Linked DNA regions of Homo sapiens. The protein of the gene in region 1 binds, or shares a complex with, the protein of each later gene. Each region holds a gene or a part of one and is shown in the gene's direction. Other genes may lie near its edges. The genes, in order: G3BP1, ELAVL4 and IGF2BP1.

What was found.
Region 2: G3BP1 (region 1) and ELAVL4 share a complex: the UniProt entries of both Homo sapiens proteins name them as parts of the TAU mRNP complex.
Region 3: G3BP1 (region 1) and IGF2BP1 share a complex: the UniProt entries of both Homo sapiens proteins name them as parts of the TAU mRNP complex.

What each region holds. Positions count from the first base shown.
Region 1 is NC_000005.10:151,787,411-151,798,055, forward strand, and holds part of G3BP1 (ras GTPase-activating protein-binding protein 1), read left to right. Parts: intron 1-2,912; coding exon 2,913-2,994; intron 2,995-3,478; coding exon 3,479-3,652; intron 3,653-6,748; coding exon 6,749-6,839; intron 6,840-8,068; coding exon 8,069-8,165; intron 8,166-9,816; coding exon 9,817-10,018; intron 10,019-10,645. UniProt on the Homo sapiens protein: Protein involved in various processes, such as stress granule formation and innate immunity. Plays an essential role in stress granule formation.
Region 2 is NC_000001.11:50,102,909-50,113,819, forward strand, and holds the start of ELAVL4 (ELAV-like protein 4), read left to right. Parts: upstream 1-6,011; 5' UTR 6,012-6,281; coding exon 6,282-6,290; intron 6,291-6,924; exon of another isoform or gene 6,925-7,032; coding exon of another isoform or gene 7,033-7,056; intron 7,057-10,911. UniProt on the Homo sapiens protein: RNA-binding protein that is involved in the post-transcriptional regulation of mRNAs. Plays a role in the regulation of mRNA stability, alternative splicing and translation.
Region 3 is NC_000017.11:48,993,514-49,000,384, forward strand, and holds the start of IGF2BP1 (insulin-like growth factor 2 mRNA-binding protein 1), read left to right. Parts: upstream 1-3,871; 5' UTR 3,872-4,232; coding exon 4,233-4,407; intron 4,408-5,595; coding exon 5,596-5,656; intron 5,657-5,755; exon of another isoform or gene 5,756-6,871. UniProt on the Homo sapiens protein: RNA-binding factor that recruits target transcripts to cytoplasmic protein-RNA complexes (mRNPs). This transcript 'caging' into mRNPs allows mRNA transport and transient storage.

The sequences.
Region 1 (10,645 bases):
AAATTAGAACACAGATAAATTATGAAAGTAGTAAAACCACAGAAACAATTTTTCTATATATATAGAAACATGTTTTAATATACTGTCTTAACTTTCTTACTTGATAATCTGGAGTCATCTTTCAGGGTAATACTTGTATCCCATTAATTTTAGTGGCTACACAGCTTTTTATAGAGATGTAGTGTACTTTAATCTCCTAATGATGGATCTATAGATTGCTTCTATTATTTTCTCTTACAATGTCGCTTTATACAAAACTGTCTATTTATGTGGACTTGTTAGAATAATTTCATAGAAGTTTCAAAATGTGTATTTGCTGGACCAGAACTATTTTTTCCCTTACACCTTGACCAGCTTGCATATTGGATACCACATGATTATCAGGTATAAAATAAAATTTATGAATGTATTCAATATGAATATTTTCAATTCATAAAATAAAATTTATGAATGTTTTGACATTGCTCTGACAATGGAATATATCTCGTGTGTGTGTGTGTGTGCATGTGTGTGTGTGTGTGAGAGAGAGAGAGAGAGTTAAGTCTCAGCTGTCTCCCGGGCTGGAGTGCAGTGGCAAGGTCACAGCTCACTGCAGCCTTGAACTCTTGGGCTCAGACGATCCTCCCACCTCAGCCTCCTGAGTAGCTGGGACTGAGGTGCAATCCACCACGCCCAGCTAATTTTTTGTAGAGACAGTTTTACCATGTTGCCCAGGCTGATCTCGAACTCCTGGGCTCAAGCAATTCGCCTGCTTCAGCCTTCCAAAATACTGGGATTACAGGTGTAATTGGGTTTTTTTTTAAGGCTTTAAAATTTCCAGAACATTTTTTCTCATTTCCTCCTGATCATTACAAAAATCTTTACTGAAAGGTAGGGCATTGTAAGAGAGTTAACTTCATTTTGCAGATACACTCAGAGGGGTTAAAAATTTGCAGGTACATATGCACATGACTATTAAGTGATAAAACAAGTCTCAAAGCTGTTTTTACCCTTTCTTTCTTTTTTTTTGAGACAGTCTTACTCTGTTGCCCAGGCTGGAGTGCAGTGGTGAGATCATAGCTTACTACAGCCTTGACCTCCAGGGCTCAAGTGATCCTCCTGCCTCAGCTTCCTACATAGCTAGGACTACAGGCATGCACTACCATGCCCAGCTAAGTTTATATGTGTGTGTGTGTGTGTGTGTGTGTGTGTGTGTGTGTGTGTATTATTTATTTATTTATTTTTAGTAGGTGGAGTCTCGCTCTGTCACCGAGCCTGGAATGCAGTGGTGAGAGCTCACTGCAGCCTCTGCCTCCCAGGTTCCGGTGATCCTCCTGCCTCAGCCTCCTGAGTAGCTGGGACTATGGGTGCGCACCACCACCATGCCTGGCTCTTTTTTTTTCTGGAGACAGAGTTTTGCTCTTGTTGACCAGGCTGGAGTGCAGTGGCGCTATCTCGGCTCACCACAACCTCTGTCTCCCAGGTTCAAGTGGTTCTCCTGCCTTAGTCTCCCGAGTAGCTAGGATTACAGGCATGCGCCACCATGCCTGGCTAATTTTGTGTTTTTGGTGGAGACGGTTTCCCTGTGTTGGTCAGGCTGGTCTCGAACTTCCGACTTCAGGTGATCCGCCCACCTTGGCCTCCCAAAGTGTTGGGATTACAGGCGTGAGCCACCGTGCCCAGCCTTTTTTTGTATTTTTATATTTGGTTAATTTCTTTCTACCCCATAGAATAAAACTGACATAAAACATAACAAAAAGAAAAAAGCATAGGCCAGGCATGGTGGCTTATGCCTGTAATTCTAGCACTTTGAGAGGCTGAGGTGGGCGGATCACTTGAGGTCAGGAGTTCAAGACCAGCCTGGCCAATATGGCAAAGCCTTCTCTCTATACTAAAAATACAAAAAAAGGCGGAGGTTGCAGTGAGCTAAGATTGCGCCATGGCACTCCAGCCTGAGCAACAGCACAAGACTCTGTCTTAAAAAAAAAAATGTATTTATCTGGAAGACAAATGTCAAATCTTAATAGTGGTTATCCCTGGATTAGAGCATTTTGGTGTGTTGCTTTCCTGGTAGAATATTGTTTTAATGAAAATGGATCAAAGGAGGACATAGATGGGTGAAAACCATGAGGAATTGACTTTGACATTCTTAATTGCATCAGCAGAAATAGTTAAAAAGTACTTCTAAAACCACTTGCATGAACTAGGTGTTTAAGGGGAACCGCTCACGCTTATTCTCAGATACATTAATAAAAGGACACTTGAAGTCTATGAAGAAGATAGCTGTTCCAGCCTTACCGCACATTTTCTTCCTGAGTGAAAATAGGAACTTATGTATTGGTGGCCATCTTGACATGAAACTACAAGATCCTTCCCAACAGTATCATCCTACACTGAAACCTGGAACCAAATCCATTCCCATTCAGCAAATGTTGATCAAGTGGCATGTAGGGGATACAGAGATGATTGCATACAAAGATGAAAAAGAAAACGTTTCTGCCAGGGCCAGGCGCGGTGACTCACACCTACAATTCCAGCACTTTGGGAGGCCAAGGCAGGTAGAATTGCTTGAGTTTGAGTTCGAGACCAGCCTGGGCAACATAGTTGACCTTATCTCTACTTAAATAAAAATAATCAGCCAGGCATGGTGGCATGTGACTGTAGTTCCAGCTACTTTGGGAAGCTGAGGTGCCATTGCACTCCAGCCTGGTCAGCAAGAGCAAAAAAAAAAAAAAAAAAAATGTGCACATCAAAGATCATAGCCCCGGCACATCGAAGCTGCAATGAGCTATGATTGCATCACTGCACTCCAGCCTGGGTGACAGAATGAGACCCCGTTGCAAAAAAAAAAAAAAAAGTTTGCCAGTATCAGACGTGAAAAATAAACTTAAGATACTTGAAGATGACAAGTAAATCATCTTCCCATTTTACAGATTTTATGGAAAGAACTCTTCTTATGTCCATGGGGGATTGGATTCAAATGGAAAGCCAGCAGATGCAGTCTACGGACAGAAAGTAAGCATTTCAAGCCTTATTTAGGCTGTTAAGCAGGTAGAAAATAACTCATAAAATTGAAGTGGATCATACTTAATAGATTTGCTGATAAAGATCCAGTTTCTCAACTTTTTAGTAAAAGTTGATGTGTTTTATTACTATTTGATTAATATATTTGTTGAAATACTTATGTGATGTCAGATTTGTTAATTTTGTATGATATATTCTAAAGCTTTTGTGTGTTGGAAGATAATTGGCTTTAGCATGGGGATCATCTTTTCTAAACTTTGAAAAGTGTGTTAATTCAGGACAGTTATTTAAAAAACTCAAGCGCGGTCACTGGGAATAGAGTATACAAAGAAACATCAAAATTCAGTCTGCATATCCTGTAATTTAAATATACACATTCTCTTTGTGTTGTGTTGGAAGGTTTTTTTTAGTTGGAGGTTATTTAAATTTTAAGGCATTCTCAGTTGATTATTATTATTATTATTATTTTTTTAAGGAAATCCACAGGAAAGTGATGTCACAAAACTTCACCAACTGCCACACCAAGATTCGCCATGTTGATGCTCATGCCACGCTAAATGATGGTGTGGTAGTCCAGGTGATGGGGCTTCTCTCTAACAACAACCAGGCTTTGAGGAGATTCATGCAAACGTTTGTCCTTGCTCCTGAGGTATGTGTAGGAATGATTATTTTGTAGTGATCCAATACATGAAAAAAGAAACAATGAACTGTTGTGCATATCTTTAAAAACACTTGAAATTTCAGACTTACAGAAAACTTGGAATAATAGTACACTAACTCCTATATACTCCTTACCTAGAGCAGCTGTCACCACTTGCCCACATGTGTATAATTCTTTCTCTAAAATAGTTTAGTGGGCATTTCCTAAGAATAATTCTCTTCCATTCTGTAGTACAGTTATCAAATTCAGGAAATGTTGATGCAATATAATCTATAATCCATTTTTAAAATTTGGAAATTATCTCAATAATGTCTTAACAGTAATTTTTTTTCCTTGTCCAACATGGAATCTATAATTACACATTGCATTTAGCTATCATGTCTCTAGTCTCTTCTAATCTGCACTTGTTCCTTAATCTTTTGTTTTTTTTTATTGCATTGACATTTTTGAAGAGCACACTTTTTTTGTAGGATGCTTTATGGGTGTCATTCAGTGCTTCACATTAGGCATATTATGTCATTTAGTTGTGATATGAATTTTGATTAGTTAGGTTTTGCCACTGTAAAGTTAAATATCTTTTCTCTCTCTCTCTTTTTTTTTGAGACGGAGTCTCACTGTATCGTCCAGGCTGGAGTGCAGTGGCTCCATCTCTGCCCACTGCAACCTCCGCCTCCTGGTTTCAGGCTGTCCTCCTGACTCAGCCTCCCGAGTAGCTGGGACTATAGGCGTGTGCTACCGTACTCGGCTGATTTTAGTATTTTTAGTAGTGATGGGGTTTCACCATATTCGTCAGGCTGGTCTCTAACTCCTGACCTCAAGTGATCTGCCTGCCTCAGCCTCCGAAAGTGGGATTACAGGTGTGAGCCACCATGCCCAGCCTTATTTTTTCTCTTTTTGATTTGTAAATGAAGGATGGGAGATTCTCTATCTTTTTATCTTTCTTGAACACTTATGGCAAAATATTTTCCAGGTTCATCTTGCACTGTTCCTGGCCCAGTCCCTATTCTTGAATCAGCTGTTCCTTCAAGGAGGCCTGGTTCTTTTTAGTTATACTTATGAAAGGACGACAAGTTTATGTTGAATGATTGCATTTGTGTTTTCTTCCGGATTGGTCTAGACTGAACAAGGTTAGGAATCCTGTCTGCTTAAGCATGTATATAGAAATGGCATAGTAAGAAATTGTTGATTAAATCATTGTTTTCTCTAGCATTAATCTTAAGTTTTCTTTTTAGGATAGCAAACCTGAAACGCCTAAAATCTTTTAACCTTTGAATATGAGATAACTTTTTGTCTGTGCAAAATTACATGAAGCCAATTATAGTCATAATTTTTAGAGGAAGGCTTAGATTAAAATGTAAAGATGTGGTAGACTTCTAAATATGCAAAGAATCACATGGAGTATGATTGTGAATTACAGGTTTAATTACAGTTTTTTTCTTTTAAAGGAAGTATCTAACTTCTTAGTATAATACACTATTATATAAACTGTCTCATTTAATACAGAGAGTATTGAGGTATATGTTGATATCTTTCTTTTTTGTTTTTTGAGAGAAGAGTCTCCCTGTGTTACCCAGGCTGGAGTGCAGTGGTAGGATCATGACTTACTGCAGCCTTGACTGCCTGGGCTGAAATGATAATCCCACCTGAGCCTCCTAAGTAGCTGGGACCACAAGTGCAGGCCACCATTCCTGGCTGATTTTTGTTTCTGCTTTTGTGGAGACTCACTCTACAAAAAACTCACTGTTGCCCAGGCTAGTCTCAAACTCCTGGGCTTAAGCAGTTCTCCTACCTCAGCTCTCCAAAGTGTTGGGATTTCAGGAGTGAGCCACTGTGCCTAGCTGGTACCTTTCTTTTTACAGAGGAGTAACAGCCTTAGAAACTGAATAACTCATAATATATAATTGGATCTGCACTCAGGTGTGTCTTATACCTACTGCGAGCAATCTTTTTCAGGCTGCACTACCCTTGAGTGTTTATATCAATATTTTTGGAGACAGACTTGGGGAATTTTAAATATCTGCTGAAGTTAGGAATATGATTGCCTTTTTTTTTGAGACAAGGTCTTACTCTGTCGCCCAGGCTGGAGTGCAGAGGTGCAGTCTGGGCTTACTGCACCCTCCACCTCCCGGGTTCAAGCAATCCTCCCGCCTCAGCCTCCCTAGCAGCTGGGACTACAGGTGTGGGCCATTATGCCTGTCTCATTTTTGTATTTTTAGTAGAGATGGGGTTTCACCATATTGGCCAGGCTGGTCTTGAACTCCTGACCTTAGGTGATCTGCCTGCCTCGGCCTCCCAAAGTGCTGGGATTGCAGGCATGAGCCACTGTGCCCATCCGGGATATGATTGCCTTATAATGTTTTGAGGTGTGGGCTGTGGCATTTACATGCTTAGGGCTTTGTCAGTTTTTGGATATTTATCTTGTGGTGAGGTAAAGTGTTCTGAGCAAACAAAATGTATGTGAGTGTAGTCTTTTTACCGGCTATTGTAGAGTGGGCATTTTCAGTCTTGGCACTGTTGACATTTTGGATTAACTAATTCTTTGTTGTGGGAGCCTGTCCTGTGCATTGTAGGAATTTAGCAGCATCCCTAACCTTATAAGTTGTCAGTAGCATTCCATGTAGTGAATACTGAAATGTCAGCAGGGCATGCTGGCTCATACCCATAATTCAGAACTTTGGGATGCTGAGGCGGGAGGACCACTTGAGCCCAGGAATTAAAGACCAATCCGGGCAATATAACAAGATCCCGTCTCTACTCAAAAAAAAAAAAAAAAAAAAGAAAAAAGAGAAATTAGCCTTGCATGGTGGCGCGCCCCTGTAGTTCTAGCTACTTAGGAGGCTGAGGCAGGAGGATTGCTTGAGCCTGGAATGTCAAGGCTGCAGTGAGCTGTGGTGGCTCACTGCATTCCCACCTGGCTGACAGCAAGACCCTGTCTCAGAACCCCACAACAACAAAAACTGAAATGTCTCCAGATATTGCCAGATGTCTCATGGAGGCAGACTTGTCCCAGTCACCAATGGTGTAGAGTGATTTGACTTTCTAAAAGTCTGTTGAATAAATTAAAACTTTCTGTTGGCATTGCAGGGGTCTGTTGCAAATAAATTCTATGTTCACAATGATATCTTCAGATACCAAGATGAGGTCTTTGGTGGGTTTGTCACTGAGCCTCAGGAGGGTAAGTAGTGAAATACTTTAAATTACTTGTCTAAATTTTTTTTAATGGCATCCGATTGCCCTTAAGAGACTATGGGTTTCTTTACTGTTTTCATTACACTCTGTTCTTCATTAATAACTAATTATGGTATATGAAGAGTCTGAGGTTTTACCCTACTTGAAGCTGCTAACAGGTTAGCTTATATCATGGATGTTAGTAGAAGACATAAGACTCTTAGGTCAGAAGGAGACAGGCTAACTCACAGCGACAGTAGTAGTATTTTTGCCACATTTACCAATAGGATGTCATGGAGAAGGCTAGGTGATACTTCTACTGCAGTGGGTTGTGTTAAAGGCATGGGACACTGAGTTTAGGGAACCCAGATCTATTACAACAGGCAGTAAACATGACTACTCTTTGTGCTGGAGGGAGATACTCTTTCAAAGCTGTTTGCTATATAAATGTTCTTGAAAGACAGTCTAGAAGAAAGGGTAGGCATGGAAGATGTGTAGACACAGAGACTTATGGAAAATTTTCTCCAAAATAGTAGAATTGAGTGTTGTTTATATGGCTGAGAGTATATTTATTTTGTAATACAGTTTTACAGATAAGCAATCATTTGCCTAGTAAAGTGGTAGAGCCTGCATTAGATAACTGCCTAATATAATTTGGCTAATGTCACGTAGCCAGTAAGGTGACAGAGCCTGCATTAGGCTCCATGCTCTTAAAAACCAAGACACTACAGTAGCCTTAAAGTCTATCCTTAAGGCTGGGCGCGGTGGCTCACGCCTGTAATTCCAGCACTTTGGGAGGCCCAGGCGGGCAGATCACGAGGTCAGGAGATCGAGGCCATCCTGGCTAACATGGTGAAACCCCATCTCTACTAAAAATACAAAAAATTAGCCAGGCGTGGTGGCAGGCGCCTTAGTCCTAGCTATTCGGGAGACTGAGGCAGGAGAATGGCGTGAACCCAGGAGGTGGGGCTTTCAATGAGCCGAGATCGCGCCACTGCACTCTCTAGCCTGGGCGAGAGAGCGAGACTCCGTCTCAAAAAACAAAAAACAAAAAAAAGTCTGTTCTTCAAAGCCTTAGTTCTGTCCTTAAAGTCAGTGCCATGATTTTACCAAATTGTCCTACTTTGTTTATTTATATATGTTTTTCTTCACTGTTGTTTTGTGAACATTGCGAAAGTTAATGTATATGTGAATTCAGTAAGTACAAATTACTTTAAATATCTTTTTCTCACTTAGAGTCTGAAGAAGAAGTAGAGGAACCTGAAGAAAGACAGCAAACACCTGAGGTGGTACCTGATGATTCTGGAACTTTCTATGATCAGGCAGTTGTCAGGTAAGAAGATTTTGTTCACATGTCCGGGGCTGCATAAGAACTTGCATTGTCTAGTCTTTCCCTTTGTTGGAGGGCATTTACATATTCTGAGAATTACCTCAAAATAATAATTTCTCAGAAGAATGGTTTTGTTTCTGGTAATTTTGACTAAACAAAAATATGTAACTTGTTTGTTAATAGTAAATTGTACTATGAAGGCAATCTACTATTGCTTAGTTTAAATAGTATCAGTTTCTTTTTGGTTTAGTTTTTTCTTGGTGTTAAGTGAAAACTTGCATATTGTTTATCAAGAGTTGAATGTATTGAGGTATTAAATGCTTTGAGGGAATATGAAGTGGACAGAGACCTATTTAATTAGAGATCGGGCATAAATTGATATAAATACCAATATGTGAGTTAAGTAGCAATAAAGAATTTCATTACGTTAGTAAGTGCATCATTATACCTTTGGGTTTTTTCCCCCTTGTGATTAGAACAGAAATGTGTTTGATAGCAATAGAAATCCATATTTACTTGTTACCATGTGATACTGAATGTTAATATTCAGTGCCTGAAGGGTGTTTTCAAGTGTTTCTTAAGGTGTGATGAACTAATCAGGTTACTCACTTGGGTTGCTGGTTGAAAATGAAGATTCATGGTCCCACTGCAAACCTACCGAATTAGACTTTCAGGAGGCAAAACATCTGCAGTTTTGTTTGTTTTTGTTCTATTGAGACAGAGTCTTGCTCTGTTACCCAGGCTGGAGTGCAGTGGCGCGATCTTGGCTGACTGCAACCTCCGCTTCCTGGATTCAAGCAATCCCCCTGCCTCAGCCTCCTGAGTAGCTGGGACTACAGGCGCACGCCACCATGCCCGGCTAAGTTTTGTGTTTTTGTAGAGATGGGGTTTCGCCATATTGGCCAGGCTGGTCTGGAACTCCTAATCTCAGGTGATCTGCCCACCTTGGCCTCGCAAAGTGCTGGGATTACAGGTGTGTGCCCAGCCCCCTCTGCAGTTTTAACAGCATTTCTGGTTGATTTATGTGGAATTTTAAGAATTGTATTCTGAATCATAACTATTTTCTCCCCCAAATTCCTTATGTGCTTGAAAGAGTTTTTGTGTGTTTGTGTTAAAAGCCACATATCATAAAATTTGCCATCTTAACCTTTTTTTCATCTTAACCATTTTTAAGTGTAAAGTACAGTAGTGTTAACTGTATAGATGTGGTTCTATGACAGATATCTAGGACTTTTCACCTTACAACTTTTATTGAAGATAACTTTATATACCTTATAAACAGACTATACCCATTGAATGGCAACTTTCTTTCCCGCCCCCCCCGCCCCAGCCTATTTTGAGAGTTTTTCTGATGTTGTATGCTAAATGAATTGTAATAGTTGTGGGATTCCAGCCATAAAGTGGTTTGGTTCATTTTGATGTCCTGATTCATTTGCTTATCAGAATTTGCCAAACAAATGGATTCCAGTTAAGTTATTGAGTGGCATTTTAAAAATTACTTTTTAAAAACTCAGATAGATATACAATTCTTAGATTTTTGTTTTGGATAGAAGGAGCTAACTCTGTGTTCTGGTTTCTGATTAATAAATGATGGAGGAATTTTTTGTGAAATAAATGGTGGCAGAATGATATTTCTCAAATTTTCCTGTCAAAGTAATGACATGGAAGAACATTTAGAGGAGCCTGTTGCTGAACCAGAGCCTGATCCTGAACCAGAACCAGAACAAGAACCTGTATCTGAAATCCAAGAGGAAAAGCCTGAGCCAGTATTAGAAGAAACTGCCCCTGAGGATGCTCAGAAGAGTTCTTCTCCAGCACCTGCAGACATAGCTCAGACAGTACAGGAAGACTTGAGGGTATGAAACGTGTCTTCATTTTTATTCTATTCCTAGTTATTTTTTTTAAAAAAAGTTTCTGTTCTTTTGTATTGCTGTTTGGTTGACTTGTAGATACATTTTCATATTGGTGGTTCATTTCAGGGAAATTTCTTAGATATTGAGCCATATGTTTGATAAGAGAGAGGTAAGATGTGTATTAGTTTATTTCATCAAAAGAAACCACTCCCTTCCCCGAGGTAACTTGAATGCCTGTTAGACCAGAAATTTTAGGTGCCACTGTAGCACCCTATCAGTGATTCCTTTTCTATTTAATATTTAATCTTTTACACTATAAATTATTACATACTTGTTACTACAAGTGCATAACATCTTTTCAAGAAAAATAACATGGCAGAATATACTTTTTCTATGAAATTTTATTGAAGATAACTTTATAGTGGAAGTAGAAATGAACTGCTGAAGTAAAACTTCTTTTCTAGTTGGCATACCTGATTTCAGAAGTTTTCAGTTTGTCCTTCTGAGTCTCGTCAGGGTGATTGTTAACTGAACTATCGTTGAAACCTTTGCATTTGGTGCTCTGGAAAGGAATATAATTTTTAGTGCTGTGTTTATAGGCTCAGGGTTATGTCATTTGTTTGTTCAATA
Region 2 (10,911 bases), on another chromosome or scaffold:
AATGTGTATTTACCTTTTTTTTTCAGAATTTTGTAAGTAAGATAGTTTTCCTGTACTTCAAATTTTCTTTCCCAGAAAGACATCCTAGTGCTTTAAGAGTATGGTCAAAGGCACATTTGAAAAAGTAAGCATACACTGACTCTGGAAAGGAAACTTTTACTTTCAGCTACTGTTCTTGCATAAGGCTTAGGAATATGAAGAGAAAGCAGGAAGATGAAGTATGAATCTACTCTTAGGTCCATTTACCTGCACAGGTGAACTCTTGGCGATTTAGACAGGTTAGACATCCATTTGTCACATTTCCCCCCACAGTAGCATTCTTCTAGCTTTCCCACAATCTGTAGTAGACAAAACTACTTAGGAAGGAGAAAGGCATTATTGACTATCAGGTCATATATCTCACAGAGAACATTCGACAGTGAATTTCTGATAGACTCCTTCACATCAGTCTGGTGCATCTTTCTTGCCTCTGTAGTATGTTTGCATTTTCCTATAAAAATTGATTTAATGTTTCTACATGATAAAGAAAAAAAAAAGACAGAAACCAACACCACAATTCAACAAAGGAAAATTAAGCTTTAAATTTTCTCAAAAGCTTTTACATATAGTATACCATTTTCTGGGCAGACTGATTGTATTTTTCCTAAAGAAGGAAATGCCAGCAGTCTAGGTTTATTTTTCAAGGGAAGAGGTAAAGGATGAAAATAAATTGAACCACAGGAAAATGTCAGGTCATAGTCACTGATGACGCTATTTAAATGGTGTGCTATAATCATATTAGGGCAGAGCACATGGAATTCCTGATTTCTGCATGACAGTGAAGAAGGGCCAGCAATTATCTATATGTGTGTGTGTGGATATGTGAGTGTCTGTTCACTCTACCTTCCCACCCCATTTTGCTAATTCAATTGAGGGGCAAGAAGAGGTAATCCAGACAGCCGGAACAGGAGGAAAAGGTCTGCAGCTGTGTTCGGAGGGACTGGTGTGAAGAGAGAGGCTCAGTCTGACTTGGAGTTTTGTGCTGTTGCACGTGAATGCTCTGGAACTGCCCTAATCGACTGAAAATGAGCCGGCTACAGTCATATGGAACAGGTCTGTTTAGCCACATCACTGGATAGCCTGGCAGATGGTAGACCGTCAATGGGTGGTATTGATTGGCTGGATTTGCCTTAGGGTAACAAGACTATGGGTCCTTAAAAACCCGCTTCATCTTATTTTCCTTTGTGCAGCTTCATACAGTAGTGGTTTTCTCTTCTCTCTCCCCCCAGTCCCCAGTATCCCCTTTTACCCTTTTCAAATTAAAAGTCTTCCTTGGTAATCAAAATAGAGAGGTTACCTTGAGATAAACACTCTTTAAATTAGCACCAAGGCAAGAAAACTTGAGAATATTTTATTTACTAGGCTGATTACATTTTAATGTTTGAAGAAAGTGACATTTTTTAATTAGTGTTTAAGACATATGGTGAGTGTACAAATTAGCTTATTTCATACAACCAGAATTTGATGAGAGCAACTCCTCCTTCTCACTCCCCAGTTAAAAATTGTCACTTGAAACTTAATATATGCAAGGAGGTTAAATGGTATTAAGTGATGCCGTCTTGACTTAAAGATGAAGGACATAGTCACTATTGTGTATGGCTAAATACGGCCTGGATGGGCTGGGAAAATATTACTGTCAACACCTGTGTTTGCAAGAAAATGTGGAGGTTCCAGACCTTTAATTTTGTCCAGCCAAGAAAAGAAAATCCCAGGTATCTGTGTGTGTTGGTTTCTGTTTTAGACACATGTGGAACATAGAATGGTGTTGCATGCTTTATAAGTAATAAGATCCTCCTTAAAATCAGGCCATATAACAATATAAGTGATGTAATTTATTTTTGTTCAGGTGGTTCTATATCCTTTTAACATACCCCCAATCACTTGGAGCTTTCAACTTGGGACATTCTGTTTATTCTTGGCAGAGGAGCAGATTAATTGGAATAGAGTGATACAAAGGAGATGCCAAGTTAGCTATACATCCAAAATAGTATACGACAGAAATGTTCCACTTCGAGGCAGATCTTCGGGAAAAAGAACAGCAATGGGTAGAGACATGTGATTGGCTTGCTCTTGTGGTTGTTTATCACTATTCATATAATTGTATTTTTAAAAGAGAGGCTTAATATTTTGTATTTTTTTTCGGTGTCTTTACTTTTAAGCTTTCAGTTATTTCTTATCAGGAAAGACCCACATTAAATAAACCTAATTTCTACCCAGAAGAAAAGTTGCACCCTTAAACTCTTGCCTCCATCTTGTATGTGCTTCATCCACATGCACACTTTTGAGTTTTCATCACTGTGTGTGAATATTTTTCTGTTTTTGCTAAAGAGAAATATTTTCATGAGGTTTTTGGCCTTCCCCATTGCTCTGTGTTGATTGTATTTTCCTTGTTCATCCTTTGCTGAATGAAACAAAGCTTGTTTGTGTTTCATTCTTCGCAGTTCTTATTAGAATTTGTGGCAGTGTTTTGTTTTGTTTTGTTTCATTTCCTTGCTTTAAGTCAAGAGAAGGAATTTTATTTATTTATTTTGACAAGATATAGTGAGAGACAATCTTGCCTGTTAAGATGCTAGTGTTTCTCATGTCACATTTTACACCCAAAAGCTATTCCAAGGGGAAAAAAAAAAGAAATCTTTTAAGATGGTTCATTTGAATCTGTGCACTCTACCCACCTGGTGGTTATATAGTGAACTGTTACTTTAAAGAGTAGTTTAAACACCAGCCATGTTTGGGGCAGGCTGCTCTTGCAAAGAGAGCAGTACATATAACAGGAGTCTACTGTGTGTGAGATAAGGGGAAAATTCAGCTCACTGACTAGAGGTTTTAATGTACGAACTCTAGGGAAATAATATATTGACTGTTCCGTGGTGCGCAAGAAAATTGAAGAACCCTTTGCAGACGGAGTGCTTTGCAAAGGATTCTATCTGTTTCTCTTAAAACAAAATCTGTGGCAAGATGTTTGAAATCAGCAGGACGCTTAATGCTGCTTTGTTAAATAATGAGGTAATATTTTGTCACTTTTTTCTGGGCAGCATCTGTTTTTCCCCCCTCTTCTTTTTTTTCCCTATATTTATGAAGGATTCCTTTTTTTCCGCCTCATGGAAGTCAAGGAAATACAATTCACGCTTCCATTTCTGTTCCTTCCTTTTGGTGCTTTTGGAGAATTTGGTTGTCTTTTTTTATTTGCAGTTTCAGCCGGCTGCTGTTTCCTAGCCCATTGTGCCACGTAAGGCTTCTCCACTGCGCGGAGTAGGTAGTTATTAACGCTGAATTGGCTTCTGGTACAGTCCATCTGGACTCTGTGTGGGAAAGCTGGCTGCCGGCGACTGATGCTGAGATATCTGCAACCTTTGGGATGTGTGCATGGTGGCAAGGGGCTGACTGATATGAGATTACTTCTTTTAAGGGAAATTGTCATTAATGAGTCAAGAAACTGCTCATTTATGGTAAGAGGAATACAGCGGCGCTGGCAGCCCCACAGTGCTGGGATATCATTTTTAGGTTGCCTTAGCTGCTTGAGTGAGACAAGTTTCTTTCTGTGGTGGTGGATTGTGGCAGAAAAAAAAAATCATGCATGACTGGGAGACTCGCCTGCCTGATTCTTGAGATAATATATTGAGAATCTGTTGCTTTACAAATGTCACATCACTGATGTAGCGGTCAGCCCCTCACTCTGAAAGATGAATTGTACTATTGGAAATGCGATAATAAGGTTGACTTTTCCCAACAATAGGATTCTGCCTTTGTCTTTAGAGAAAAGGCCTCTGAGGACATTTGTGCATTTGTTTGAGGATTCTGTTGAAAGACTTTAAAGTGGAGGTTTGTGGAAAAGTGATCAATATACAAAATGCATGAATTTTTAGCCTAGCAAAACCAGCTAGTTATTTATACTGTATATACAGCTACTATTTTGGAAAAGTGGCCAGAATACCTTTTAATATACCTAATGTTAATTTATGGTTCAATAAGTGTACTGAGGTTAGTATGGATGGGAGAAAAGGGTTTTTAAAATTTTTATCTTTTATAACCTCCAGAGAAATCTAAGTAAATATTTTGTTCCAAGTGAGCTGTTTTTATTTGTGTTTGTCAGCATTGTCTTAATGTTTACTTTTCACAATATTTTAATATTGGTGAAATTGCACTCAGAGTTTATGTTGTTGATTTGGGGCACACATACCTACTCTGTGTATATATGCTGAACCATTTAGAACACTTTAACCTGTGAATTCACCCTCAGTACACAGTTCAACAGATACTGTAGTACTATTGTGACTCACAGGACATTTTATACATTTGCTAAAGAAATTACTTTAAAAGTTTACTTAACTGAGTATTGTTCCACCTTAAGGAATTATAGTTTTAACATTTGTACTTTTCTATTTCATGTATTTTCATTTCTAATAGCTGAACGTATTCATACTCAAGTCTAATGGATTATGCAGTGTACCCAACACATATTGTTTTATGATGTATCTGTATTTTCTGAAGTGTGAATATATATGTATGTTTATATGTGTGTGTTCATGAAACAGCATCTTGGACAGAATAGTTTTAATCTTGAAAAATGTAAGGTTATTTTCTTTCCTAATAATTTTTCACAAACCCATTTATTCTTGGACTTTGAAACCCAGAAATATAGCTTATTTTTTGGTCTGTATGTCTACTCTGCCTAGTTCTGTCTCACTGTCAACTCTAGTCAAAGATTAAAGATTACATTGAATTTTGTATTTGGTAATATGTGTTACCACTGTGTATTTATTGAAGAACAAATTGATTAAATTATGAGTTAAATAAATAGTGACACATTAGTCTTTTGCATAGGTGTGAAGCATGAACTTCTCAGGTAAGCCACTTAAAAAACCCAAACCAGAACAAAAAATACACTACTGAAGGCTTGGTAGTGTAGAGGTTGTTAAATGTGTAAATAGGCAGACAAACTGTATACCTCACCATACACTTGCTAAATGTCTCTTTGCAAATCTCTTAAGAGGCCAAAGAAAAAAAGACATCCCTTTGAAGGAGAGAAGCAAAATCACTTATTTAGTTAAGCAAAATGAACACTCTGCACAGGTTTTGAAATGAGGCTGTTGTCAAAAGCATGTTTTACCTTTCTCTAAAGGGGTAGGAGAATGTGTTTTAGTGGATTTTTAAAAATTCAGATCATGTTCCTATCCAACTTGAAAAATAAATTCATTTAAGTAAATCATTCATCATCCTCAGTTTTGAAAAGCTCAGACAGAAGGCAGAAAGGTAGAGGCTGACAGCTGCCCCTCCCTTACCCCCACCATTTTTTTTCTTTTTGTTTATTAGGAAATAGTTTTCTGAGACAAACTTGTATGAACCTAGTTCACGGAGCAAGCTTAATCCCCAACTTGCTTGCTTTTGAAATGTTGGCCATGTTAGCTGGAGAAGGAGCATTACTTACTAAAAATCAGCAATATCTGGAAATAATAAAGTTAAATTGTAGATGAATTAGCACATTAAAGTGCTTTTGTTGTACCTTTAAGCCTACAGGCAGATCATTAAATATGCATTTCGCTAGAAAGCAACTGTCTAGAAAGATAAGGTGGTTGAAAATATTCTACGGTGGAAAAGCCCTCCATCAGAGAGGTGGCACGGTTCGGCCCTCAGGATGGGAAAAGAAGGACCCTCCCACTGTTAGTTTAGGTTTGCAAGCCTCCAGTGACCTGCAGTTGTTACAGTACTTTTGAGCTGGGAGGAGGGAAAAGGTAAAAATACAAGTATGGCTGTTGTTGCTTCAGCCGGGCCTTAATTACCAGACACAAGAAGCAGTTCAGAAATCTGGTCTCTGTTGTTGTAGAGGTCACCAAATCATTAACATCGTCAATCTGGCAGTAGCTAATTTAAATAGCACCTGATGTTGCAACGCCTCCCTTCGTTTCCCCAGCCAATCAGATCCAGGCTTCGGCTGACAGATGGTCCCATAAATGGATGTAAAAAGGGGAAGCTTCGAGCCAATTTCAGCAAGGCTCTGTTCAGTTGTTCTTATCTACATCCTAGAATCGGGGGTTTCAGCTCACTGCTCCTTTTCTTTTTTTTCTTTCTCTCCCCCGCCCACCCCCCCAAAAATAATTGATTTGCTTTACAATCATCCACACTGTGTTTTGTGGATCTTTAATTATATATAACAATAGTAGTCATTTTAAATATATATTCTGAAATCTTTGCAAATTTTAACAGAAGAGTCGAAGCTCTGCGAGACCCAATATTTGCCAATAAGAATGGTTATGGTAGGTATGACTAGATTTATAATCTGTTGTTTGTGTTGCTGGAGGGAAGAAAAGCATCTACACCTTGACCAGTCTTATGCTTGCACAAGAGTTTAGTTCTGTGCTGCTGTTTGGTTCCTACATTTACTATCTCTTTTGTGTAGAGAGTGCGGGTAGGTCCTTTTATTGAAAAGCAATGGGGATATAAGATTGTCATTTTTAGCAAGTCGTTGTCAGTTTTCCCTTCAACATAAAGGCAAGGGGTGGAGGGGGAGGGCTGAAATAATTGCTGGTTTATTGAAAGAGGTTATATTACTTGAGACATAATGGCAAAAGAAGGGTTTTCTTTTTTGTAAGGGAGAGGGGGTTTGTCTACGTGCCTGGGTTTTGTGGGGCTGGGGGTGGATGCAGCGGGGTTAGGAATCTCTCAATTTCCGTGCTGGAAATTTAAACCTCGAGAGGCAGCTCCTGGATACTGAACACTGAGATGGGCAGTTGTGTTTCGGGGGACTGCGCAGTCAAAACGGCAAAGAGAGTGATTTATTTGGGCTTCAGTAAATGCTGCATCTTGTATTTCAAAGAGTTTCCTGTCATGACCTCATAAAAAAGAGGAGGCGGCTTGTATGTGTAGCAGTGCCTGGCGTGTTGAGTTGTTGCTTCCTTCTCTGGGCAGCAGCTCTGTAAGAAGGAATGTCAGCTTTTACATAACGTTCCTTTCCGCTTTTGACACACTGTGTGAGGGTCCATCTTCTTCTGATCACAGATGGAGTGGAATGGCTTGAAGATGGTAAGTGAAAAGAGGAAGGCAGCCTGGAGGTCCCAGCCCTGTGTGTGTGTGTGTGTGTGTGTGCTTGTATGTGTGTATGTGTAAGGATGCTGGACTGTGCATCGTAAATCACTGTGCTGATCGTTTGTGTGTGTATGTATGTGTGTGTTTATTAGTATTTCTCTTTTCTGAAAACCAGAATCCATCTCCAAGTGTAATGGCACTGCATGCACACAAGGCACACACACTGCCTCTTCCAGCAAACACACATTTTAGCCAAGGAAGGTTGGTGTCTTTTTTGACAATCAATGTCACCGTCACTGTTGGCTGGCGTGTCCACCGCCTCTGTGAGCCTTCAACGGAATTACACGACTGCTAAAGTTAAAGGCACATTTCTTTTTCAGTCTCATGCTAGGAGTGATGGGGAAGGATGGGAATGAGGGGTGGAGGAGGTGAGATTCAGTACCAGCCGATGCAATTGTGAAACAGGACTTTCGGATGTGGAAGGGGAAGTGGAAAACCTTTCTGCCGAAGTAGTAAATCTATTTTTAGCATCATCTTTTTCTGAAAAAAGAAGCAGGGAAACTCCTTGAGTGCCGCTTCTGTCGCCTGATGTTGACCCTGAAGATATGGCACAAAATGGCATGATTAGATGCCACGAGTGCCCACTTTGACTTTGAATTTTCACCAGCAATAGGTTTCACAAGGTTTCAGAGCTGGGTATGGGGGCAGGCTGTAAATTCATAACCATCTTACTTATTTTTCCCTAGAAAAGCCTGGGGAGGACTTTTTGCTCTGCATAGATGTTATAACAAAGCTGTGGTCTTTTTCCCATTCTTAGAGGATTGCCTTTGTCTGGCTGCTTGTTTTGATGGGTGTAAAACAAATAAGATTAGACCGAGCAGCCCAACTGAAAGCGATAGCTGGGAGGAAAACCCAATGAAAGGTTGCCGGGGAAACGAACAGAGGAGAAGCCGAGTAGGGAGCAGGTGGCTATCATGAGAACACACTGCAAACAGTGTAAAAAAAAAGGGGAGGGGGACAGGACCTCGATTATCTTTGCTGTTCTTTGTGGCCAGCCCAACTTTAATTATTCGTTATTAATAGGTGTTAATTACATTTCTAACTCTGGTTTACAGTGATTTTTAGAAATCTATTTTTAAGCATCTGTTCTGTCTCCCCTGTTTTTGTGTGTGTGTGCGTGTGTGTGTGCGCGTGTGGTTTTTGTTGTTGTTGTTGTTGTTTAAAAAACCCAGAGAGGAGGTGAGGGGGAAGGGAGGGTAGGGAATCTTGCTTTTTTTTTTTTCCTTTTTCCCCCTTTTCCCTGGTGTGAAATTGTACATGCGAAAAATCGCAAGGAATCCTGTGAGACCATTTGAAAAAATGTAAATTATATTGAATGAAGTTGACGGAAGCATAATAGTGAACTCCCACAGCTGATAGGTTCTGCAAATGATTTCTTAGAAATTTCCAGCAAATATTCATAGGAAAAATATAGGTAGAATAGATCTACCCTAAGCAATGATTTGGGGTTAGGTGATTTTGGTATTTTTACTAAATCGGATGTTGATACTATAGTTTCAGGGGAATTCATTGTACCTCTCATTTTTTTCCTCAGTAGAAATTACTTTACAAAATAATAAATGAAGAGCTTTTTGCTTTCCTTCTTTCCCCATGCCCACAGTCACAGGATCCATCAGGCTTGCACTCTCATAACCACTGCCTTCCATTTGGCATTTGGTCCTGATTCTGGTCTTGGCACAAACTGAGTGAAAAGCTGATTTTTATATTAGTGTCTTTGGACGTCTGGGACCCATGTGTGCACTGGGTGACAAGCATCTCTCTTTTTTCTCTAAATGTGCTTTACTAATAGTCTCTTTTTCTCATGATGGTGGGTACCATAAGGATTGAAAGGTGTAGTATTTGGGTGAACAGGAGATAGCGTAAAAACAATTGAAATGGTGATCTGTTAGGGTTTTTTACTAAAGGACAAAATAGATGCATGATCAGGGAGCTAATTGTAAGCCCAAAAATGAGAGATTTAAAAATGCTGAAATACACTAAAAGATTAGGAAATATAATTGGCTTTATTGAAAGTACACTTAATTTTTGCTCTCTTCATTGCAAATCCCCCCAATTCTTTTTTCCTTGCAGATGCGTCTTTTTGTTTTCTCTTCTTATTAGGGGATTTAAAAATTTTATTTTCACTCTTGAGGTAAAAATAAATAAACTTGTATTTTTTGTCATACACTTGAAACTTGCGGCCATATGTTGAGTGCATAAGCCTGTGTCACCTTTAAAAAAATAGAATTTTTTTAAGTCTCCAATATAGTTTCTTTTTTTATTTTCTGAGAATTTTCTGGCAATTTTTAGTTAGGGGAAAATAATTTCTGTAAGAAGTGTCATCTTGGCTTGGGTTGTAAAAAAGACACGTGGTTCTGATGCTGACCTTTCTCGATCCTTTGTCTTAAAAATATTAATGCCTACTACCTTCATGTGGAGTTGTGCTCTTATGGAAGCACAAGGCTGAATGTGCATTTATTAAGAAGTGAAAATCCAATTGGAAATATTTCTGCAAAAAACATCTGACTAAGTAGCAGTTTTAATGATCAGAATGTCCATATATCTCATAGTAACATAACAGCTAAATCATTTAATATTTAAATTTTTGAAAGGGTAAAATTAACATAGATGAGGAAGTAGCTGAAAAATTACTTTGAGAATTGTTGATTTACAAGACAATTTAATATCTCATTTTTTAAAAAGCTAACAAACAACTTAACCATTCATTTGTGATCTCAGTCCCATTCATTTTTACCTGCCATTCATTCAAGTCATTCTCCTGGCCAGATGTAGATGGCCTTGCTTCTGTTTGATGGTTTGCACAAAACCTTAAAACTTTTTCTCTCCCAATACTCCTTCCTTGGTCCTTTGAAAATTAGGGTGTTGTTATGAGAGGAAGGCCAGATTGTTGTGAGATAATAACAATAGAATATTTAGAAAGAGAGAGAGAGAAAGAAAATGAACTGCGCATTTGCCTTTTAGTTCTAAACTTAGTCTTGAAATTGGATTTGGGACACTTTGGACTTCAGATATTTTAAACTTAGGATTTCTATTAGGTATAAGCTATTTGAAATTTCACATCTAGAAATTATTGTTTGAATGGTGCTTTGTATGTGTGTGTTCAATATCTCTAAAAGGACTTGTGGATGAATTGAGATGTTTTTCTCAAGTTAGAGTTACTGTGAACAACAATGGGATTTCCTCAGAGTAAGTCTTTTTTTTTTTGGTTTGATTTCTTCCCTTTACACTTATTTCCTTATTATAGGTGGGTTCTTTTCCTATATGTAGGCCAAATACTATTTCTTCCATGAGGAGATATGCTGCTTCATTTAGCCCTGAGCATCTTAACACCTTATTTTAATTTTTTTAAAAAAAGAAACAAATTGTCTGTATGTACCTCAAGTAAGAAATGGTTGTCTTCATAGAGGTCATCATACATAGACGAAAGTACTTTGGCCTTGACAAATTTCTTCATTAGCTCCAATGATCTGTGGCCACCAGGCAGTTAATTTATATGCCTAGACATTTAATATGTACATTTGTTGGTGAGCTGGCCAGAGGATGCTAAACACACGAGTATGCGCTGGCAAATGCTGCAATGCAGTATTTTTTTCCCAATGTCATTGGGAATTTTGGGGCTAGGAAGGGACATGAACATTTTCAAGCTTTTATCTTACTATTGTCCAGTCGATGGGCCATGTTGTACAGATTTGGTCAATTCTCCTTTTGAAAGTAAAGTCAACCTTTTATTTACCACTATCCATTCCCCCATCCATGTAATGTATATGTGGAAAGTGTGTGTGTGCGAGAAAG
Region 3 (6,871 bases), on another chromosome or scaffold:
ACTTGGCTTATTTCTCCAAGAAAAATATTCTTTTATTTTCATCTTTAAAAAAGTTGGTTTATTCTCTCAAACTTTTTTTTTCCTCTCTGCATGTATTTGTATATTCACATTGGAGGAAAATGGATTATTATCCTATCTTTAAAATGGAGTCAAATGTCAGTGTTTCTGAATTCAGATAATTAAATTCCATAACTAGACCAAACTGTTCTCCAGGAAAAAATAAAGAAGAGGAGGAAGAGGAGGAGAACAAGAAGAGGAAGAGGTATAACAGTATTAATATTACTATGTAGAATATACAATATATATTATATACGATATGTATTATAAAGGATAATTATTAAAGAAAAAACCATTTAATCCTGTAGCTATATTTTTAACTCTTACACAAGTGTAACTCTGCACTAAAGATTTATCTGTCCCAAAGAAGCAATGTAGAAAAAAAATTGAAAATAAATACAATATTTGATAGTAATCTTTAATGTTAACAAAAACAAAGAAAAGAAAGATGAAAAGTTATGGTACCTCAAGTCTGCCCATTTTTATCCCTAACCTAGGAATGTCAGTCTAGATAAGAAATAACCCTTAATGTGAGTGCTGGGCTCATTCAAAAGGGAGAGATGAAACACCAATCAATGTGATTTAGTTCCCCCAACCCCAGCCTAAAATAGCCAGGTCACTAAGGCAAAACTGATTTGGGGGCTAAAAAGATCTGTATCTCACCCCTGTTGTCTCCTCTCTTGTATTCTTGCAGCCTTTGCAGCTTCTGACTATACACACATAAGCCTTTTTTTGGGGGGTGGAGAGGATTAGAATTCAGTAAAACAGCTGATTTTTTAAAAAGAACTAATCAGTTTCAATTTAGCAATTATTGGTAATTTTTAATTAAATATTTAAAAGGATTTAAAAATAGCAGATTGTTCAAGTGAAATTTATATATTCTCTTCTAACGTTATCTTAAATACATTAAAACTGATTTCAGCTAACATTTAGTTAGTATATTTTTACATGGAAAAAAATCAACCTGAAAGTGAACTGAATTCACTGATTATTTTTAAAAATGTTGTTTCCCATTGACTCTAGGATAGTAAAAAGTGGACTGCATTTTATAGGAGTTTAGAGGTCTGGATGGAGATTTTTATGGGGTGTAACTTGCTTTTGTTTTAGGCATACAGAGGCAGAGTAGTGGATATGTCCCCCAGGGAGACAATCTGAGAAGTGCTTTTATTAGCACCTAAAGATTCAAATTAAATGAAAGAAACAGCACTTAAAGTTTCTGGGAACTGGGATGATCTGCCTAGTTGCCCTCCTCCTTGTTCCCCAATATAACAGAAAAGATTTAAGGAGATTGGGGCTCCTCTTTAGGAAAAGGCCAAGAAATACAACAGCCTTTTTGAGACCATCTTTTAGCCCTTTCAAAAGTCTACACACATCACCAAGAAAAGTTCCCGGGCAACAGAGCCACACGTTCTGGCCAAGATAATTTTTTCCCCCCTGGACTCTAATTTTCATCAATTCTCTTTGCTGTGCTGTTTGTATTAGCTTGTTTTTCATTTAAAAAAATGTTTATTGAGTGCCTACTATGTGGCATGCCTGTTTCCTACTCATTGGTTTGTTTAAAAATAATGCTTGTGACCAACAGCTAAGTATTAAGAGTCAGATAAGGGGGGAGGGTCGGAGGTGTGTGTGTGGGGGTGAGACACAGATGTCTCCCACCTTCTTGGACAGAAAATATTCTCTTTCTACTCAACAACAAATAGCTCCTAGTACTTTAATTCTTGTTGTTCCATGGGAAAAAAAAATCACAAAAACAAAAATCCGACAAACACGTGGCTGGGTAGAACAAAACGCTCATTGGGGAGGGTGGGCTCTAAGGTGGTGGAGGATATAGAGAAACCGAGTTGGAAGCCCTCCCCCGCCCCTAAGTCCCAGCCCCATTTCTTTTCAGCGCGCCGGGAAAACGGGGAGGGGGACAAAGGTGCTGCGTGCTGTCTTTCAACTCCCGACTTTTTGAATGGCATACAATCGTCCGGCCGCAGAGCGGTGAGCCAAAGTCGGAGTCAGCTCAGACTCTGCAAACGAAAAATAATAACAATAAAAAAAATTCAAGGCATTCATATCGGTGTAGTCAACACGTGTTGCGGAGTCGGCCCGGGCCGCAGGCGACTGAGACAATGGGGTCGGGGACTGGGGAAGGGGAGTGACCCCCTTCCTCACCTGCCCTCCCAGCACGCGTGCCCCCGCTAGAATTATCCTCCCTCCCACAGAGTCCGGAGTAACACCCCAGTTTTCGCCCTGTTCAAGGGGATTCCAGAATTTCTGGGGGTCGACCCCTCCTTTTTCCCCGTTCCCTGGGCGAGGGGGTTCCAGGGTCTCCGGGCCGCGCTCTCGGCCACCCCTGGCGCCATCCCAGCCTCCGCCGCTAGAAACTCGTTGGCCTCGCTCGCCGCTCCGCCGTGGAGCCGGGGCTTGCCCGTGGACCGCGCGTCCCGCTCTCCGCCGCGTATCCGGGACTCCGAAACGCGCGGCGAGCAGCCCCCTCCCCCACCGCCCAGACGGGGTGCGACCGCCCACGTGTCGCCCCTTGCCCAGTCGGGTCCTTCCCTCGGGCTCCGGGAGCCGGAGGATCCGGAATGAGTTGGTCAAAGCCGAGGGAAGGGACCCAGGCGGATCCGCTTCCCCCTCCCCAGGAACGGCGGGAGGAGGAGGGGAGTGGCCGCCGCCCCCTCCCCTAAGCTCCCGCCCCTCGCTTCCCCGTGCGCGGAGCGGAAATTACCCCCTCCCCCCGCGGGTCTGACCTGGGGACGTGGGCGGGGCTTCCCGCTTAGCCCCCCGCCCTCCGTCCCTCTCCCGCCTTCCCGCCAGGATCGGAATCCTGCACCCCAAACAAAGTTCCGAGACCCGAACCTAGGGCCTAGAGAGCTGCCAGCAGTGTCCCGGGTGGTGCAGGCTCTGGAAACTCCACCTGTCTGTCCCCGACTCTGGGAGGGAAAAGGGGACCATTCAAATCTCCACCCGGTCACTCCCTCCCTAAGACCTCCCCCTTCAGTTCGCTCCGGTTAGCCCTAGCTATCACTCCTCTTCCTTGTCTCCCACCGTTCCTGTCTCCTGGAGTCATCTCCGGCCAGTTCCGCGTGTTCCCCTCAGGACCCCGAAACGTTATCATTTAACAGCCGGACCCCGGGTGCGAACCACCCTTTCTCCCGTGGGGATCTCAAAACATTATTTCCTGCGGCTTCCTCGTTCTCCACTGGGATACCCCGTTCCCAGCTTTCCAGTCCCGCGCTCGCAGGGTCCCCCGGTCCTGCATCCCCGGAGGCGGGGGAGTTTCGTGGGGCTGGCGTGGGGAAGGCGGAGACCCCCCCCATTTAAACATCTAGGGAAAAGGTTCCTTTCTTTTTAAATCACCAGCTCGTGCGACCCTCTCCTGAAGACCCCAGAGTCTTCGGCTTCTCTTTGTCTGTCTCGGCCGTCCCCCGCCTGTCAGTCGCTAGCAGTTAACCGGGGAGGGGTGAGCAACCCCGCCCCCCAAAACGAATGAAAAATAACCGTACATTTTACCCTTTAAGACATGTGAGATCTGGGCTGGACCATCCTCCCCCAGTTTGGGCTGGGGTAGGGGGATGGGTGGGGGCGGGGCGCTTCCCTAGGGGCCAGGTTCTTGCAAAGGGGGAAGGGGCCTGTAGAGCTTCAGGGACGCTGCCGCACCGCCCCAGTTTACCCCGGGGGTGAGTTGAGTTCCCCACCCTCAGGCGGGAGATTATCGGGTTTGGCCGGAGGGCCGAGGGGCCCTGTGGCGTCGGGGGTCTTTCCCTGCAGGGTGGGTGGGGGCTGTCACCACGTGGCTTCTCCTTTTTTTTTTTTTTTTTTTTTCCGCTCCATTTTTTTTCAAGTCGATTTTATTTAGAGGCGGCGCCAGGGCGGCCGCGGAGAAACGTGACACACCAGCCCTCTCGGAGGGGTTTCGGACCGAAGGGAAGAAGCTGCGCCGTGTCGTCCGTCTCCCTGCGCGCCGCGGGCACTTCTCCTGGGCTCTCCCCGAACTCTCCCGCGACCTCTGCGCGCCCTCAGGCCGCCTTCCCCGCCCTGGGCTCGGGACAACTTCTGGGGTGGGGTGCAAAGAAAGTTTGCGGCTCCTGCCGCCGGCCTCTCCGCCTCTTGGCCTAGGAGGCTCGCCGCCCGCGCCCGCTCGTTCGGCCTTGCCCGGGACCGCGTCCTGCCCCGAGACCGCCACCATGAACAAGCTTTACATCGGCAACCTCAACGAGAGCGTGACCCCCGCGGACTTGGAGAAAGTGTTTGCGGAGCACAAGATCTCCTACAGCGGCCAGTTCTTGGTCAAATCCGGCTACGCCTTCGTGGACTGCCCGGACGAGCACTGGGCGATGAAGGCCATCGAAACTTTCTCCGGTAAGAACACAGCCACCTCCCGGAAAAGCCACAACGAGAGCCCCGAACAACGGAGACCCGCACCTTCCGGTTCCTCTCCCGCCAACTCCTCTCTTCCCGGGCCTGCGGGGTTTGGCCTCCGTACCCACCCTCGACCTACCCCCTTCGATGCCCCCTCCCTCGCTCTGCGCCTCCCACCCCCGCGCAGAAACATTCGGGATTTCCTCATCCCTTTCTCCCAGCCTGAGATAAGGAGCTCTGGCTTCCCCCATCCTTCCTCCCCACCGACGGGGCGGGAGCCCCCACTGGCAGTAGTGGGGGGTTGAATTTAGGGACACGGGGATGACCCCTGGCTGGGCGTTATTTCCACGCCCAGCCCCTCCCTATCCGCCGGTGGACGCCCCCCCAGCTGGAAAACCCCGGCTCCCGTTCCTCAGTCTTAGGCCTTTCCAGGCGTGGAAGGGGTACCCGGACCGCCTGCGATCTGTCCGCTTCGCGTGGGGAATGCAGCCCTCCAGCAGGACTTGCAAGGAAGGGGGTCTTGCCTCCCGCCCAGGGCCTGGGGCTTGAGCCATTTTGATTTGAAAGTGGGGCGTGAGCGGGGTGGCGCGGCGGCGGCGGCGCCGGGTCGCCATGCTGCTTCCCGAGACGCCGAGGCTGGGCCGAGAGGCGCGCGCGGTGGCAGTGAGGGACCCTCCCCGCCAGGCCCCGCTCCGCTCCCCCAGGTCCACCCCTTCCCAAACCAGCCCCGACAGGTGACCGCTCCGTGGCCCAAAGCCCGTCTTCCTGGCCAACAGAGAAAAATAAAGTTTCATTCTGCACACTGCCTCCCGCCCCGCGCCCCACTTTCTGAGGAACGGGGAGCCCTTTCTTTCCTGGCTCCTTCCCACATCTGGGAGCTGTGTAGGCAGCGCACCCACACAAATGGCCTCGCACCTTTCCCAAATCGGGATTCCAGAGCGATCCACTCAACAAGCCTCAGTGATTTAATAAAGCAAAAATTAAAAAATGAATAATAACGAATTTACAGACTCCACCATTCCTAGAGCAACCTTTTTCCCATCTGGATGCGGAAGCCACTGCCTGGATTCCTAGGAAGATCTCGAATCCCAGTAACTCCTGAATTATCCTAGTGTCTTTTCCCCTTCCTCTTCCCACCCCCAACCCCTGTTCAAGCTCTCATGGTAATTTTTTTTTTTTAATCTTTAGGGAAAGTAGAATTACAAGGAAAACGCTTAGAGATTGAACATTCGGTGCCCAAAAAACAAAGGTAGGAAAGAGCTCTTTTCGGGGGGGGTGGGGGGGCCGCGGGGGTGTGCTGTGAAGCTGTGTTCAGGGGTCCATAGCGTCTCCAGTGGAAGAAACCCATTACTGGTCTTTCCCACCCCCAACTCCGGATGTTGGGGGCAGGGAGGGAAGATTGGCCAAGATCTTGTAATGGGTGGTTTACAGCTTGTAAAAAAAAAATAAATAAGTTGGGGCTGGGGTAGGCTAAAAGATGTTACTTGCAGAATTAAAGGGGAAAGAAAATCAATAGGGGAGAAACCTTGTGGAGTTTGTTTGTTCAACTCGTGGGGCCGTTTTTTGTGGGGGAACCTTAAAATCTTTGAAGAGTTCAGACTCATGGCGATTTCTGCAACTTCGTAGCAGGCCTCATTTTCTGTTTTTCCCACTCTTTCCACACCATAATTCTTAAGTGGATTGCCCTTCTCCCGAAGCGATGTGGAATGAGTTTCCCGGCCCCCAAAGAATCCCCTTATGCTTGTACTTTATTTATATTTCTACAACAGGCAAAGACTTTTTATTTTCCATGGACCCCCCACCCCCAATCCCTCATATCTCACATCATCCCTCTCCCCAGCTGGATTTTCCAAAGAATATGCCTTGGCTGTACTATCCTTTTCGAGCCCCCCTACCCCCACTCCTTCAGCCCATTGTTACCAGGGGACCATCTGGGGTGAGAGCTTTGTGTTGAGGCTGTGAGCTGGGGCTCTTTGGAGGGTCTAGAACTCCGTGGATGAATGGTGTGTGTGTGTGTGTGTGTGTGTGTGTGTGTGTGTGTGTTCGTGTGTGTTCCAATACCCTCTATCCTCTCTCTTCAGCAAAATGGGGTACCTCCATCATACTTACCGAGAATTCATGGTGGATTTCAAATCTTGCATTGAACTCTGAAACCTTTCCTTGAACTCTGGCTGGGAAGTATAAGGGCAGAGTCTTTCTACTTTCTCAAATCAGACTTTAAACATGTTGACAGTGTAGAGTTTGCTCTCATGTCCCAAGCTGGAAAGCAGCCCCCAGTAAATCTTTGATCTTCCTCACCCCCCATTTCAGCTGAAAACTTGGTACATTTCAGGATAGTCTCTGGCCTTTTCCGGGTAGATGGGAGATGATGACTGCTTTTTCTGGGGGACCATTAAGAGGGCCTAGAAAGTTTAATGTGAGATAAAAATCTGTTCAGTTGCTTAGCTTGATATTTAAGTAACTT